4 linked regions of the Homo sapiens genome follow. The protein of the gene in region 4 interacts with the protein of the main gene of each other region in a biochemical or structural test. Each region holds a gene or a part of one and is shown on either strand. Other genes may lie near its edges.

Region 1 (4,069 bases), on a different chromosome or scaffold from region 4:
ATTTAAAACAGCAAAACCCCCCAAAAACTTATTGTCCAACAGTAGGGATACACTGGGAGATAGACAGGAATTTGAAAACATAAAGGGTACCCTGTTTGGGCAGCTTCACTCTGGCTTCTTGACCTCCACATGTACATAATGAGCCTCCTCTTGACTTGGGGGACCTCATTAGTACCTCAAACCCGTAAGTCCCACTGCATTCTTCTGCCCTTAATAATACAACCAGGCTTAGCCCGCGAGGTCTGTAGTCTCTGTAACTGCTCAAACTCCCAATATCTACATAATCAGTAGAATAAAATCCACACACTCTGGAGTCCCACCAAATGGATTTCAGGGCCTCTCTTCACTGGCATAACTAGTGTTTAGTTTATTTTTAAGGAAGAGAAAAGGGAGGAGTGGGTACTTTCCCATTCAAATCATCCTCACCATCCCATCCCACACCCTGTGTCAACTGGCCCAACATTATACCTGGGAACTTGTCCACACCAACCCCAGCTGTGGAGGGGCTCAAAGGTAATTTTGGGAGCTGGGATGTGAGCATTCCTTCCCTCTGCACTGCGGATTCAGTGTGTCCAACCTGCCCATCCCTTTCAGCCACATGAAGTGCTCATTTCATCAAACCAGAGTCCCACAGCCACACACTTTGGGATTCGCTCAGTAGGGTCTGGATGGGGCCTGCAAATGAGATTTTTAACAATTGGGGTTTGGGGGGCCCAGGTAATTCAGCTGATCAGGTGAGTTTGAGAAGGAAAAATTGACTGAGACCGACTACCTGGAAAGCAGCCACCAGCGATCAGATCAGCGGCCAGGCCTGGCAATGTCAGCAGGCAAATAAATGCCCCCACGGTGGGCGGGCTGGTTGGGCCAGGGATCCTGGCCTCCTGAATCCACATCACACCAGGTAAATAATCTATTTATTCCTATCCTCTCTGTCATCTTGCCAGATGAAAAGCCTACCCTCTGCCTTCTGGGGCTGTGCTGATGCTGTCCCCCACCCTCTGCTGTCCCTGGGAAGTGGCCCTGAGCAATGTGTTCTTCCCGCACTCGCCCTGCTGCACTCTGTCTTCCCTCACCCACCTCACCTCAGCCAGCCCAACACACCTTGGGCCTTGTTTGGAGTGACTTCTTTTTTTTTTTTTTTTTTTTGAGATGGAGTTTCGCTCTTGTCGCCCAGGCTGGAGTACAGTGGCACGATCTCAGCTTACTGCAACCTCCAACTCCCGGGTTCAAGCAATTCTCCTGCCTCAGCCTCCTGAGTAGCTGGGATTACAGATGTGTGCCATCACACCCTACTAATTTTTGTATTATTAGTAGAGACAGGGTTTCACCACGTTGGCCAGGCTGGTCTCGAACTCCTGACCTCAAGTGGTCCACTCGCCTCGGCCTCCCAAAGTGCTGGGATTACAGGCATGAGCCACCGTGCCCAGCCTGGAATGACTTCTTTAGAACCCATTCCTGGCCTTGGAGAGGTAAGAAACTTTCAAAACCTTCTGGCTGAGAATCCTGAAGGGTCCTTTGGGGCCTGGCTGCAAAAAACCCTCAGAAGGACCTTCTCTGGAATGTTCTCTTAAAGGGACATTTTCAGACCTTAATCACAGGTCTGCCCACCCCACAGGTCCCCCAGCTCAGCCTTCCCTTCTTTTTGAGTGTGACTAAGTCCTATCCAGCTCCATGCACTCTCTGAAAAAGCACAGACCCTGGATGGGCAGAAATGACCCACGTCACTGAGTGGCCCACAGCGGGCAATCAACAATGAGCAGAGTCAGCCCAGCCGGGTTTATTTCAGGACGGACACAAAGCCTACCAGCTGCCCGGGCTGAAACTCTGTGATCCCAGGCTAAGCACAGCCAACCCTGCACGGGGTCAATGATTCTGTGGGGTGGAAAGGCCAGAGGGATTAACACCTGCTCAGGCCCCAGGCTTGCCTCCTTCTTCCCCTGCACCCCGCGGTCTTGCCCATTACCATGGCCAGGGGATGACAGGAGATCTCCAGGGTCCCATCCTCTTCTTTTAGAAATGGGAGTGAAGTCCCCAAAGGGGGAAAGTGACGTGCCTAGGTTCCAGTGGAAGATCCTGAAGAAGCCATTCACATACACATTTATTCACCTGGGGAACAGGTATCCGAGCATTTATTACGTGCCAGGAGATAACAACAGTACACGAAAGGAAAATCTAGCTGGGCCTCCTCTCCTGAGGGCCTGGGTGGCAGCGCATGTGACAGCTGACTGTCCCTCCCCCACTGACCTCCCCCAAGCTGCCTCTGCTTCACTCCTCCCATCCCACGGCTCTGAGCCACTCCGGGAATAGAGGGAACTGGTTTGGGCTGCCTGATGCAGGGCTGTCTATAATTACCCGCTCAGCTTTGCTCTCTCCCCCTCCAAGGCGGAGGAAGGAGTCTCAGGTCTCCCAAACACAGCCACCAACCTCAGGGACTGCCATATGGAAGGCTGGGCACTGCCAGGAATACACAGATGCCTGATGGGACCTGGGCCAGGGGGTTGTGCAGGGCAGAGTCTTAGCCCCCTCCTTCCTTCCTCCATCCACCAGGCACTTCCTGGCTGCCAGAAATACACCATGCCCTGAGACCCACCACCTGCAGCTCCCGAAGGACCTCACGAGGCAGGGTGGACAAAGTCAGGCCCCCATTTCGGGTCCTGGACTCACTCTATCTCTCTTGCCTCTGTGGAAGCCACAGCCACAGGCCTACGGTTTCCTCCTCAGACTTAAGGCCCACTGCCCCAAGTCTCCAGTCAGCACCCTCAGTGGGGAAGGTGTCCTAGGGCCCGTCACATGCCTGTGTCTTCCCTGTAAGCCCACCTCCTGCACGGCTCTCGAGACCATGTGCCTTAATCACGGCTGGCGCATGGCGTTCCCTGCCTCCCAGGCACTCCCCTGGAAGGAGCCCACAGCTCCTCACGAGAGCCCTTTGGGTGCTGCCCTTGCTTTACAGGCGAGGAAGCTGGGGCTCAGAGAGGGCGGAGGGCTTGTCCAAGCTTACCCTGCCAGGAAGCAGCAGGGCTTGGAAAGAGGACTGGGGCCCTGGGGATCCAGTCCTGCCCTTGCCTCTCACTCAGTGATCAGGAAGGCTTCCTTCCCCATGCCCAAGGCTCCTTGGGAAAATAAGGAGGGAGGACAAGGTCCCTGCCTGCCCCCACCCCTCCTCTAGATTAAAGAAGCCAGGGAGCCTGTACTGCCTAGGCTTCCCTCATCTCACGAGCAGAGGCTGCTCTCTGCTGGGGCTGCGTGGAGCATCCTCTAGGCAAAGGAGTATGAATTAAGCCAGCCCCCTACCGAGCCTGCCAGTAACAAGCCAACAGGCAGAAGGAACGTCAGAAAAAGTTAAGGCTGCCTGTGGTGCAGGGTCCACCCTGGCACAGGGAGCCGGGGGCCACCAGCCCTGCTAGTCCACTGACTGCACTGGAGCTGGGAGCTGCCAGAGGCTCAGCATCCTGAAGGCACCGCCACCAGTATCACCTGGAAGCGGGAAACCACCAGCTGCCTCCCGCCACTCTGCAGTGGGCCTTGCCTGACCAAGCAGAGTATGAGTTCCTGCAGGGCGGGGCCTGAGCCCAGCTCTGCTTTCCCATCTCTCCACAAGCCCCAGTTAACAACGGTGAAAGAATAAAGTGTCACAGGCTAACTGCCCAGCTCTGAAATCGCCACAGGACCCTCTTGTGACATGCCTGTCTGGGCAAAGACAAGGGGTAGAAAGAGAATGACTTTGGGGTGGCGAGACCTGGGCTGAAGTCCGTTTCAGGTACTTTGCTAAGTGTTCGACCTGGGGCTAGTTATCCCTGAGGCTTTTTTTTTTTAAATAAGAGATGGGGTCTCCCTGTGTTGCCTACACTGGTCTCGAACTCCTGGGCTCAAGCAATCCTCCTGCCTCTGCTCCCAAAGTGCTGAGATTCCATTCTTTATCTACAAAATGGCAGCATGTCTGGCCACAGTGGCTCACACCTACAATCCCAGGGCTTTGGGAGGCCGAAGCAGGAGGGTTGCTTGATCTCGAGTTTGAGACCAGCCTGGGCAACACAGTGAGACCCCAACTCTACTAAAAATTAGCCAGGCA
Region 2 (4,069 bases), on a different chromosome or scaffold from region 4:
CACGTCTGGCTAACTTTCTATAGAGACAGGATTTCACCATGTTGCCCAGGCTGGTTAAACTCCTGGACTGAAGCAATCTGCCTGCCTCAGCTGCCAAAGTCCTGGGATTATAGAGGTGAGCCACCATACTCAGCCTGTATTTTTTTTAAATGCAAGTAAACATGTAAATTTATTTTCCTTGTTAATGTTCTATTTGTTTAAAAAGTATATGCATAACTCCAAAACTTGCAGCTGGAATAAGTCAGAGAGGACTCAACTTTAAAATACATATTCCTAAAACTGACATTAATTTGGTTCTGTTTTAGTCACCATAATACATTTATTTTAAAATTTCAAATAGCATTTAAGATATTTTTTAATCAAAAGGGAGTGTATTTTTTTTTAATTTGAGAAATACCAATAGGCAGACATATCTAAACAAAAATAGTTCTTACTGATACAAAGAAATAAATGACTGGGTTCACCCTGGTTTAGGTATTTTGACATTAACATCTGAATAGCACTTTTCCTCATGAGACTTCTTTGATTCAGCCTCTCCTTGATTTCACATTTGTACTTATAGATTTATCATTGTCTTCTGCTGATTAATAATACCAGTAGGACAAGAGCTTTTAACTGGCTTCAGTAAGTTCATGAACCACCTGAAATTGTTTGAAAATTTTTGGAATTAAGTGTTATTGGGCTACAAAGTGTCAATTTTGGAAAAACTGCATCCAAATATCATAAGTTAGAGAGTGTAGTGTTAGGCATCATAAGGCCTTACATGCCTATGTGTGTTATATCCACAAACTTTCACCATCTCTTCCCATAAGATAAAGAAAGATTTTTAAAAATGAATTAGACATGGGTTATCTATAATACTTATACCCCAAAGCTTGATGACATGTTATATTTGTGAATAGAGTGGCTTTTAGATCACCAGTTACAAAACTCTAAGGAAGAGATTCAAATTAAAATGTTACGGTAACAACTTTTTAAACTGAAAATATGAAAATCAGAGGTCTACTTTACATAAGGGAGCTTAAAGACTACAAATAACAGTAGTCATAACAAAATGTCTCCTATAATAAAGTAAAAAGGACAAAGGCTAGGATTTTTAAGCACATTTATGTATTATACATCTTAGAGTTTATTAAATGCTGACATATTATACAAGGGATTTACAGGCCAAAGTCATGTCATGTAAGAAATAGTAGAAGAACTGAAAATGTTTATCTTGGAAGAGAAATACTCCGAATAAATATGAGCAGTCTTCAAATACCTCATGTGGAAAGAGGAACAATTTATTCTGTGTAATTCCTAAGGACAGAACCAGAACCAGCGCATGTAAATTACAGGGAAACAAATGTCAGCTCAATAAAATAGACTTAGGAAGAAATATGCACACCGTACACCACCTAGCAAGGATTGTGGATCACTTAGCAGGGTTGGCATAAAGGGAAGTTCTGGACTGAATTTAGACTAGTTCAAGACTTCTTTCAAATTCATAATTCAAAGTCCATCAATTAGAAATAAGCTTATGGCCGGGTGCAGTGGCTCACGCCTGTAATCCCAACACTTTGGGAAGCCAAGACAGGCAGACCGTCTGAGGTCAGGAGTTCGAGACCAGCCTGGCCAACATGGTGAAGCCCCATCTCTACTAAAAATACAAAAATTAGCCAAGCGTGGTGGCAGGCACCTGTAATCCCAGCTACTTGGGAGGCTGAGGCAGAAGAATCACTTGAACCCGGGAGGTGGATGTTGCAGTGAGCTGAGATCACGCCACTGCACTCCAGCCTGGGTGACAGAGCAAGACTTTGTCTCAAAAAAAAAAAAAAAAAAAAAAAAAAAGAAATAAGCTTATTACAAAATAAGCCTTTCTTAAATATATTTTCTAAACAAAATTGGTAATATAATTGTAGAAAATGCTATCATTCTTCCTTTAAAGTCAATTACCATTTATCAACCAACCTTGAGTAAATTTAACCTTAAATATCATGTCAACAATATATATATTAAACAGAATAATAATCTTTATGCAAATATTCCTGAGTGTCTAGCTTTATAAAGCAAAACATACTGAGAGACCACATTGACTATAAACAAATATTATTCAGATCAAAAATGAAAGAAAGACAAATATTTTGATAGGCCACTCAGAAAAATCTCAAATCCTGGCTTCACTCAATAGTATACACTACACAAGCTAATATGAATCACATTTAAGTACAATGAACTTCATTACCTCTGAGCTAGCATATTGTGACTGCAATTTTTTGCATTCATCTTTGAGTTTTTCAGATTCTCGCTCACGTTCCAAGGTCATGTTATCCATTAGTGTTTGAACTTGGACCAGTTCTTTCTTTAGCACGGCAACATCTTCTATACCAGGTCTCTGAAGCTGTGAAACAACACATTTTAATTAAAAATTAAAGTGAAAAACTAAAATAATACACATTTTTAGAATCATTTCACTACAAAGGAATCAAAAGGGAAACAATCATCAATATCAATTTTTAGACTTCAAACATTGAACACTGATATCTTCTCCCACAATAAGCCACTTCCTCTTCCCATCCTACCTCATATTTAATAGTATTAATACTCAAGGTGCTGTATAGTAAATTCACAATTATCTTTACTACTTTATTTGTTTTCCTTCCCTTCACAAACTACATCTATTGGTCATAACAGTGACTTGAAAATGCTACATTCCTTCTTTTTCTATCCTACAAAACTGGTAATAAAAATGAAGGAGCAAATGAAAGCATAGAGTTTGCTCCAGGTTGGATGTAGTTAATTTATATATTTATTGAGAGCTAAATAAAGGAAAGAAAGTCAAGGACAGATCCAAGATTATTAAGTCTTGGGAGAGTATTAGAGATGTATGGTTCCAATAACAGAAATACAGTAATGAGGAAACATGATTACTTTGATTTTATACTTGTTGAATTTGAAATTAAAGCTAGAAATTCAACACAAAGTACCCTAAAAGCAGATGGATTTATAAAACAAACATGCAAGAGAAGACCAGGATCAGAGATGCAGATATGAAAACTACTAAAATGACAGATGATATTTAGATAGAAACAACAAAAATGTTAAGGTAGTAAGTTACGTATCATAACATTCCATTTTTATTTTAAAAATCATATACAGAATATATATGCAGGTGGTAGAATATAGGGAATTGCTTATTTCCTGATTTCACTCAAATTATATTTTTAAACATTTTCCTTCAGGGTATGTATTTTATTTTTAATTTAGAAAGGTATAAGAGTACATCTCAATAAATAATTCCTAAATTACCAGTTCCGTCTTCAGATCTTGAATTACAGTTGCCTCTTTGTTTAATTCTTCTGTCAGACGTGTCACTTTTTGTTCAGCAGCTTCTCGAAGACTCCTTTCTTCATCATACTTTGACTTTATATCTAATTAAAGATAGTTATATAAATATTAGTTTAAGGGGAGGACAGTTTTATAAGTTTCCATATATTACTCTGCATATCTGTATATCACTCTAATTCAAATTCACATTCCTTAGATAACCATAAATATATACAGTAAATTTATACTTCTAATTACATGAAATGAACTTAAAATTAACTGTCTACATAAATTCCACTCAACATTAAGTTAATAATTAGCATTTTAATGTACTTAATCACATATTTTACCTAAAAGCACATGTTAAAAACATATATATGTAATAGTATAACCAAGTGTTACATTTATACTACATTATTTACTTCACTTCTTTAAAATGTTCCTTTTTAATCTTTAAGCATGCCACAGAAGAAAATGTATCTTCTCTAAATTTCAAGAAGAATCTACAAAGAAACACCAGTCCTTTGAAGGCAGGCAGCTAGAGGACAAACAAAATAATTTACATAGCAACTCTGAAATCATTAAATTCCATTAATCACCATTGGAAGTCTATCACAAATGCTTTAACACACTAAAATACTATATTTATTGCTAGGGTATATAATGGCAAAAAGGTAATGAGATTGATTTATTGGCTAAAAAATTCTAACTCAATTTACCTGCAATTTCAGTAGCAAGTTGGGCTGCTTTCTGTTCAAATAAG
Region 3 (4,069 bases), on a different chromosome or scaffold from region 4:
GCACTCTGGAAGGCCAAGGTGGGCAGATCACCTAAGGTCAGGAGTTCAAGACCAGCCTGGCCAACATGGTGAAACCCCGTCTCTACTAAAAATACAAAAATTAGCCAGGCGTGGTGATGCACACCTATAATCCCAGCTACTCAGGAGGCTGAGACAGGAGAGTTGATTGAACCCGAGAGGCAAAGGTCGCAGTGAGCCGAGATCATGCCACTGTACTTCAGCCTGGGCAACAGCAAGACTCCGTCTCAAAAAAAAAAAAAAAAAATGCAAGCAGAAAGGAAGTAAAAGAAAAGAGAAGAAAAGAAGAAAGGAAAAGTAAATGAGCTTCTTGGAAAGAAATACACAGAAAAAAGGCCCTGGAATTTAAATAAGGCCTTGGAAGATCCATGTGGCTTCATTTGTAAAACTGGTGAGCTACTCAAGAAGTAATGAAGAAAGAGCACTTTAAATCACCATCAGGCCAGGCGTGGTGGCTCATGCCTGTAATCCCAGCACTGTGGGAGGCAGAGGTGGGCGGATCACTTGAGGCCAGTAGTTCAAGACCAGACTGCCCAATACGGTGAAACCCCAGCTCTACTAAAAAGAAAACACAAAAATTAGCCGAGTGCAGTAGTGCACGTCTGTGGCTTGAGCCTGGGAGGCAGAGGCTGCAGTGAGCCAAGACTCACTGCACTCCAGCCTGGGCAACAGAGCAAGACTGTCTGAAAAAAAAAGAAAAAAAAAATCACCATCAATTTCACAGGGTCTTGCAAAGAATGATTTTATAAGATAATTCTTTTTATACTGGTAAACAAGGATTTTGCAGCTAAAATATTCTACCAAATTAGTTTCCTGCCTTATTCCTTCTCTGAAAATTAATCACAATAAAGCTCCTCAATGAGTTACACTCAAAGGGTTTATTACTGTACTTTTAAGTTCAGCATTCTCTTTGGCTTGATAGAAGTCTACGTCCATGGTAACCAATGCATCCGCAGCAAGAGGAAACTTCTGTTTATAGCAGGATAGCATAGTGGGTGAGTGGGAATTCCAGCATATAAATTCCAGCCTCACAATGTATTTGTTGTGTGACCCCAAGTTAATTACCTAACACCACTAAAACTCGGTTTCTGTATTTGTAAAACAAGGATAACATTCTATTTTATAGTTTTGTTTTTTTTGTGAAGATTAAAAAGAGATGATCTACACAAAGTACTTAGTACAATGCCTTGCACATGGCCGGTGTTCAATGTTAGCCATTATATTAATATTTTTACTGAAGTGGAAATAAATAGTAGGCAAAACAAAAGGAAAGTAACAATGTTGAATATGAGTCACATTTATGTAAATGTAGCTGAAAGTAATAGCTACTAAATATTAATAGTTCCATCTGCAAGGCTAAATTTGAATATTAAAGTTGATGATATAAAGTATAGGCTATATACAACTTTTTTTTTGAGACAGAGTCTCACTTTTTATTTTATTTTATTTTACTTTATTTTATTTGAGACGGAGTCTCGCTCTGTTGCCCAGGCTGGAGTGCAGTGGTGCAATCTTAGGTCACTGCAACCTCTGCCCCAGGGTTCAAGTGATTCTCCTTCCCCAGTCTCCCGAGTAGCTGGGATTACAGGTGCCCACCACTACACCTGGCCCTTTTATTATATTATTATTTTTTTTTTTGTAGAGGCAGGGTCTCACTATGTTGCCCAGGCTGGTCTCAAACTCCTGGCCTCAAGTGATGCTCCTGGCTCAGCCTCCCAAAGTGCTGGGATTACATGTATGAGCCACTTTGCCTGGCAAGGGTCTCCTTTATGTTAAGGATGGCTTCCTCCTTTTACTTCCTCTCTGGGCTTTCCTTTCTATCTCCTTCTACACAAACAACTTTAACCATTTTTATATATAGGCCCCAAAACTATGCAAATATACATACATATTTTTTTCTCTTTTTAAAAACTCTTTTCTTTTTACCATACAAAGTCTATAACTCAAATGCAAATATACTAAGTACATCACAGAATCGTATCTACTAAACAGCTTGGTTTCAGGCCAGGCGCAGTGGCTCACATTTGTAATCCCAGCACTTTGGGAGGCCAAGGTGGGTGGATCACCTGAGGTCAGGAGTTTGAGACCAGACTGGCCAACATGGAAAAACCCCGTCTCTACTAAAAAATACCAAAGGCCGGGTATGGTGGCTCACGCCTGTAATCCTAGCACTTTGGGAGGCTGAGGAGGGCAGATCACTTGAGGTCATGGGTTCGAGACCAGCCTGGCCAACACGGCAAAACCCCGTCTCTACTAAAAATACAAAAATTAGCTGGGCGTGGTGGCATGTGCCTGTAATCCTAGCTACTTGGGAGGCTGAGGCAGGAAAATCACTTGAACCCAGGAGGCAGAGGTTGCAGTGAGTCGAGATTGTGCCACTGTACTCCAGCCTGGGCAACGGAGTGAGACACCATCTCAAAAAAAAAAAAAAAAAAATTAGCCAGGCGTGGTGGCGGGCACCTGTAATCCCAGCTACTCAGGAGGCTAAGGCAGGAGAATCACTTGAACCCGGGAGGCGGAGGTTGCAGTTAGCCGAGATCGCACCGCTGCACTCCAGCCTCAGCGACAGAGCGAGACTCCATCTTAAAAAACAACACGAAAAAACAAAACAAACAAAAATCAGCTTGGTTTCAAAGTACACTGAAGCACAAGATTCAAGACAGAAATCATATTAACAAATGGGAAAGTCCCACTAAAAATCAGGAACCAAAAAGAAAACCAAAATTACATTTTCAGGCCTATAGTCCCAGCTACTCAGGAAGCTGAGGCAGGAGGATCACCTGAGCCCAGGAGTTTAAATGTAACCTGGGCAACATAGCAAGACCCTGACTCTAATTACAAAAAAAATTAAACTTCAGTTTTACAGAAGCACCTATGGTAACTTAATTGCTTGATGTCCAACGCCTGGTCTTCAAGTCCCTGTCAAATTAGGAACTTCCACAATTCTACTCTAAGTGACCCAGGAGTAATACTGGGGAGGTAGATGTAGGTTTGATTGTAATCAATTTTATTAACCCTATCAATGAGAATGGTTATGTGAACAGAAAGGGGACGTTCTATGTGAAAGATAAGAACGGGGCTCAAGAGCCAGAAGCTGGCAATCTACCCAGGAAGAGACAATGTGGCAGGCATAAGTGTGGTATCTGCCAGGGAGATACCAAGTACGGGGTGAGATTAATTGGCAAGGATTCACCCTGCCTGAATGAAATATTCACCGAAACCATCCACATAGTTTAGCTCTGATTAAGTTCACTTAGATGCTTTATTTATTTATTTATTTATTTAGGTAGATATAGGGTGGCTCACTATGTTGCCCAGGCTGGTCTTGAACTCCTGGCCTCAAGCAATCCTTCTGTCTTGGACTCCCAAAATGCCAGAAGGCGTGAGACACCACACCCAGCCACTTTGATGCTTTCTGGTTAGTTTTTCAAATATTCCGATATTAAGAGTCAGAAGCTACAGACAGCGAATATAAGCACTCTGCCGGGCGCAGTGGCTCATGCCTGTAATCCCAGCACTTTGGGAGGCTGAGGCAGGCGGATCACGAGGTCAGGAGATCGAGACCATCCTGGCTAACAAGGTGAAACCGTCTCTACTAAAAAACAGAAAATTAGCCGGGCGTGGTAGTGGGCGCCTGTAGTCCCAGCTACTCAGGAGGCTGAGGCAGGAGAATGGCGTGAACCTGGGAGGCAGAGCTTGCAGTCAGCCAAGATCGCGCCACTGCACTCCAGCCTAGGCGACAGAGCGAGACTCCGTCTCAAAAAAAAAAAAAAAAAAAGAGAGAATATAAGCACTCACGTCCCTGGAAAGGATACCCCCAACAGAAAAGAGTGGCATTCTTGCTTATACAAAAGACAACATAGTATAGTAGTTATGTGCCCAATATCTGAAGGCATAATGGTTTCAAATCCTGATTACTGTTAACTTTTCTGTGCTTCAGTTTCCTCATTAAATGAGAATAATGCTTACTTTAAGTGTTGTTACATGGATTGAGCTAATTCAAGCACAGTATTTAGAGCAGTGCCTGGCACACAGTGCTCAATAAAACTAT
Region 4 (4,069 bases):
TGTAATCCCAGCACTATGGTAGGCCAAGGTGGGTGGATCACCTGAGGTCAGGAGTTTTGAGACAAGGCTGGCCAACATGGAGAAACCCCATCTCTACTAAAAATACAAAAATTAGCCAGGCATGATGGCACATGCCTATAGTCTCAGCTACTCAGAAGGCTGAGGCAGAAGAATTGCTTGAACCCGGGAGCGGAGGTTGCAGTAAGCTGAGATCGTGCCACTGCACTCCAGCCTCGGCAACAGAGCGCGACTCCATCTCAAAAAAACAAAAACAAAAACAAAAAACAAACAACTAGGACTCAATTTCTCCTATCGCTGACCTCTCATTTTAAAAAAGCATATCCTGGCTAAAACTTTTAAAAGAGTATGAAGCAAATCAATTTGTTATACATTACAGCTAACATCCACACTAGGAACTACTCTAAACTGAAAATTCTTTTTGTACTTTAAGCTGATATCGGCAGAATCTGAATCTCCAAATGAACCTTCATCCAAAGCAAAGTCAAATCAAAGTCAAATTATATTGAAAGTAACTATCATCAGAGGTGGGAAAAAGATTTCTCTTCATTTGACAGGATCGAATGCTCTAAGTCAGTATTTTAAACAAATTCAACAACAAAAAAACATTATTTACACCAAATGAGAAAATGATAGCCTATGTGGTGATTATGAAAATGAAGTCATCTCAGTGTTTTACTCTGAAAATTAGGTTTACATTCTGTTTTTATATCACTACAATGAAAATTACCTTTTTTAAAAAATGTTTCATTTTTTTGAGACAGAGCTTTGCTCTCTTTGCCCAGGTTGGAGTGCAATGGCACGGTCTCAGCTCACTGCAACCTCCACCTCCTGGGTTCAAGTGATTCTCCTGTCTCAGCTTCCCAAGTAGCTGGGATTACAGGTGCCCACCACCATGCCGGGCTAATTTGTATATTTTTAGTAAACAGGGTTTCACCATGTTAGCGAGGCTGGTCTCGAACTCCTGACCTGAGGCGATCTGCCCACCCTGCCCTCCCAAAGTGCTGGAATTACAGGTGTGAGTCACCGTGTCCATCAACCTGACTTTAAAAAATAGCCACTGTACCATAACAGTAAAGTTCTAGACTAAAGTGAAAATGGATACTAAATATCAAAGGTATAATTTTCCTTTAACCATACCAGTTTCAGAATATGCAATGGTTAAGAGCATAGCTCTGAATTAAGACCGCCTATATGGCCAGGCATGGTGGTTCAAGTTTGTAACCCCAGCACTTTGGGAGGCCAAGGTGGGAGGATCACTTGAACCCAGGAGTTTGACACCAGCCTGGGCAACAAAGTGAGCCCGTCTCTACAAAAAATTAAAAAATTACTTGGACGTGGTGGTGCGTGCCTGTAGTCCTAGCTACTCGGAAGGTGGAGGTGGGGGGATCCCTTGAGTTCAAGGTTGCAGTGACCTATGACGGTACCACTGTACTACTGGCACATCCTGGGTGACAGAGCAAGACCCTTTCTCAAAACAACAAAAAACAAAAAACCACTGCTTATGCCTATGCTTGTCGTGGTCCCGCTACTTCCAAGCAAAGTGATCTTGAGTAAAAGGCTCCACTCCTCTATGCCTTAGTTTCTTTGCCTTAAAAATGAGAATAAGAGAATCTTCATATGGTTGTTGTGAGGATGAAATGAGATGATACGAAGCTAAATTTAGAACAATGGCACATAAAAGCACTCAATTAAAGATAGCTATTATTATCAAACTCAAGACCAAGAAAAATGTACTTAGCAGTAATAAAATCAATTAAGTACATATTGAATGCCAACTATATATGCATTGTTGTTCCAGGCACTGTGACTAAAGACAAATGTATAATGCATGGTCTCCACAAAACTAACAGTGATCTCTCTGCTTGGGGTGACAATATCAAAAAGCTTGAATTAATTAAAGAATATATAATATAAGTGCGTGCTAAACTGTGAGGGAAAATTGCTTGTATTATAAATTCAAAGGAAATACACCAAAATGAGAGCTAACATTTCTTAAGCACTTACTATGTAGCAGGGACTGTAGATGAATTATCTCATTTAATCATCACAACCCTATGAAATAGGTATTATTAACTCCATTTTAACAATAAGGAAACTGAGAAATAGGTAAAGCAATGTGTTTACACAGCTAGTAAGAAGCAGATCTAGGATTCAAATCCTGGCAATATGACTCCTGAGCCTGCCTACCTAACTATTAAACTATTGCAGGGCAAGGGATTCAACAAGTATTAATAATGTCACCACTGGGGCTGGTCGTGGTGGCTCACACCTATAATCCCAGCACTTTGGGAGGCTGCAGTGGGCAAATCGCCTGACGTCAGGAGTTCGAGACCAGCTTGGTCAACATGGTGAAACCCTGTCTCTACTAAAAATACAAAAATTAGCTGGGCGTGGTGGCATGAGCCTGTAATCCCAGCTACTCAGGAGGCTGAGGCATGAGAATTGCTTAACCCCGGGAGGCAGAGGTTGCAGTGAGCTGAGATTGCGCCACTGTACTCCAGCCTGAGTGACAGAGCAAGACTCCATCTCAAAATAATAAAAATAATAATAATGTCACCATTTATTGAACGCCTGCTATGTGCCAGGCAGGCAGTATACCAGACACTTTCAAACATCCCCCCTTTTTTTTTTTGAGACAGGGTCTCACTCTGTCACCCAGACTGGAGTGCAGTGACGTGATCTCGGCTCACTGCTACCTCTGCTTCCCAGGCTCAAGCGATCAGCGATTTGCCCATCTCAGCCTCCCAAGTAGCTGGGACTACAGGTGTGTGCCACCACACCCAGCTAATTTTTGTATTTTTGGTAGAGCCAGGGTTTCGCCAAGTTGCCCAGGCTGGTCTCAAATTTCTGAGCTCAAGAGATCCACTCGCCTCAGCCTCCCCAAGTGCTGGGATTACAGGTGTGAGCCACTGTGCCCAGCCTCAAACATCCCCTTTTAATAATTTCACTCATTTTATAAATGGGGTTACACACGGCAGGGAAAATAACCTGCTCGAGGTTAATACATGGAAGGGGAGGGATTCAGTCACAGATCTGCTGACCCCGGAGAGTCCATGATCTTTCTGACTTCACTTTGTCTTTCAAAAGCAAAGGAAGGCTGGGCGCCTGTAATCCCAGCACTCTGGGAGGGCAAGGCAGGCAGATCACCTGAGGTCAGGAGTTCAAGACCAGCCTGGCCAACATGGTGAAACCCTGTCTCTACTAAAAATACAAAAATTAGTCGGGCATGTGGTGCACGCCTGTAATCCCAGCTACTGGGGAGGCTGAGGCAGGAGAATTGCTTGAATCTGGGAGGCGGAAGTTGCAATGAGCCTGATCGCCCCACTGCACTCCAGCCTGGGAAACAGAGCAAGACTCCGTCTCAAAAAAAAAAAAAAAAAACAAGCAAAGAAAAACTTAATTGCTATCAGCAGGACTTATGCACAACTGAGAGGATTTGTATAATTTAGATAGCCAATGAGGTAGGGAGAGAAAAGATACTAAAAAAAGGAGGAACCAAAGGGCGGACGCAGTGACTCATGCTTGTAATCCCAGCACTTTGGGAGGCCAAGGCGGGCGGATCACCTGAGGTCAGGAGTTCAAGACTAGCCTGACCAACATGGAGAAACCCTGTGTCTACTAAAAATACAAAATTAGCCGGGCGTGGTGGTACACGCCTGTAATCCCAGCTACTCGGGAGGCTGAGGCTGGAGGATCGCTTGAACCTGGGAGGCAGAGGTTGTGGTGAGCCGAGATCGCACCACTGCATTGCAGCCTGGGCTGTTAACAACAGCGAAACTCTCTTTCTCTAAAAAAAAAAAGGAGGAACCAAATGAGCAAAATATAAACTGAAAGATAGAGTTGAGAAACATAAAGAAAATAGCCTTCCTAGCAAAGAGTAAGGAAGAGTAGAAAATATGGCTAATTTGGGTTAAGATCGCAGGGAGTGAAAGCAAGGTGAAATATTAAGATCTGATTCAGGCCAGGCACGGTGGCTCATGCCTGTAATCCCAGCACTTTCGGAGGCCGAGGCAGGTGGATCATCTGAGGTCAGGAGTTCGAGACCAGC

The links.
Region 1: the proteins of STX12 (region 4) and NAPA form a complex in vitro, tested with the Homo sapiens proteins (one study listed by BioGRID).
Region 2: the proteins of STX12 (region 4) and EEA1 form a complex in vitro, tested with the Homo sapiens proteins (one study listed by BioGRID).
Region 3: the proteins of STX12 (region 4) and SNAP23 form a complex in vitro, tested with the Homo sapiens proteins (one study listed by BioGRID).

What each region holds. Positions count from the first base shown.
Region 1 is NC_000019.10:47,504,869-47,508,937, forward strand, and holds part of NAPA (alpha-soluble NSF attachment protein), read right to left. Parts: intron 1-4,069. UniProt on the Homo sapiens protein: Required for vesicular transport between the endoplasmic reticulum and the Golgi apparatus. Together with GNA12 promotes CDH5 localization to plasma membrane.
Region 2 is NC_000012.12:92,848,887-92,852,955, forward strand, and holds part of EEA1 (early endosome antigen 1), read right to left. Parts: coding exon 4,026-4,069; intron 3,411-4,025; coding exon 3,289-3,410; intron 2,381-3,288; coding exon 2,225-2,380; intron 1-2,224. UniProt on the Homo sapiens protein: Binds phospholipid vesicles containing phosphatidylinositol 3-phosphate and participates in endosomal trafficking.
Region 3 is NC_000015.10:42,501,754-42,505,822, reverse strand, and holds part of SNAP23 (synaptosomal-associated protein 23), read right to left. Parts: intron 1-4,069. UniProt on the Homo sapiens protein: Essential component of the high affinity receptor for the general membrane fusion machinery and an important regulator of transport vesicle docking and fusion.
Region 4 is NC_000001.11:27,779,543-27,783,611, reverse strand, and holds part of STX12 (syntaxin-12), read right to left. Parts: intron 1-4,069. UniProt on the Homo sapiens protein: SNARE promoting fusion of transport vesicles with target membranes. Together with SNARE STX6, promotes movement of vesicles from endosomes to the cell membrane, and may therefore function in the endocytic recycling pathway.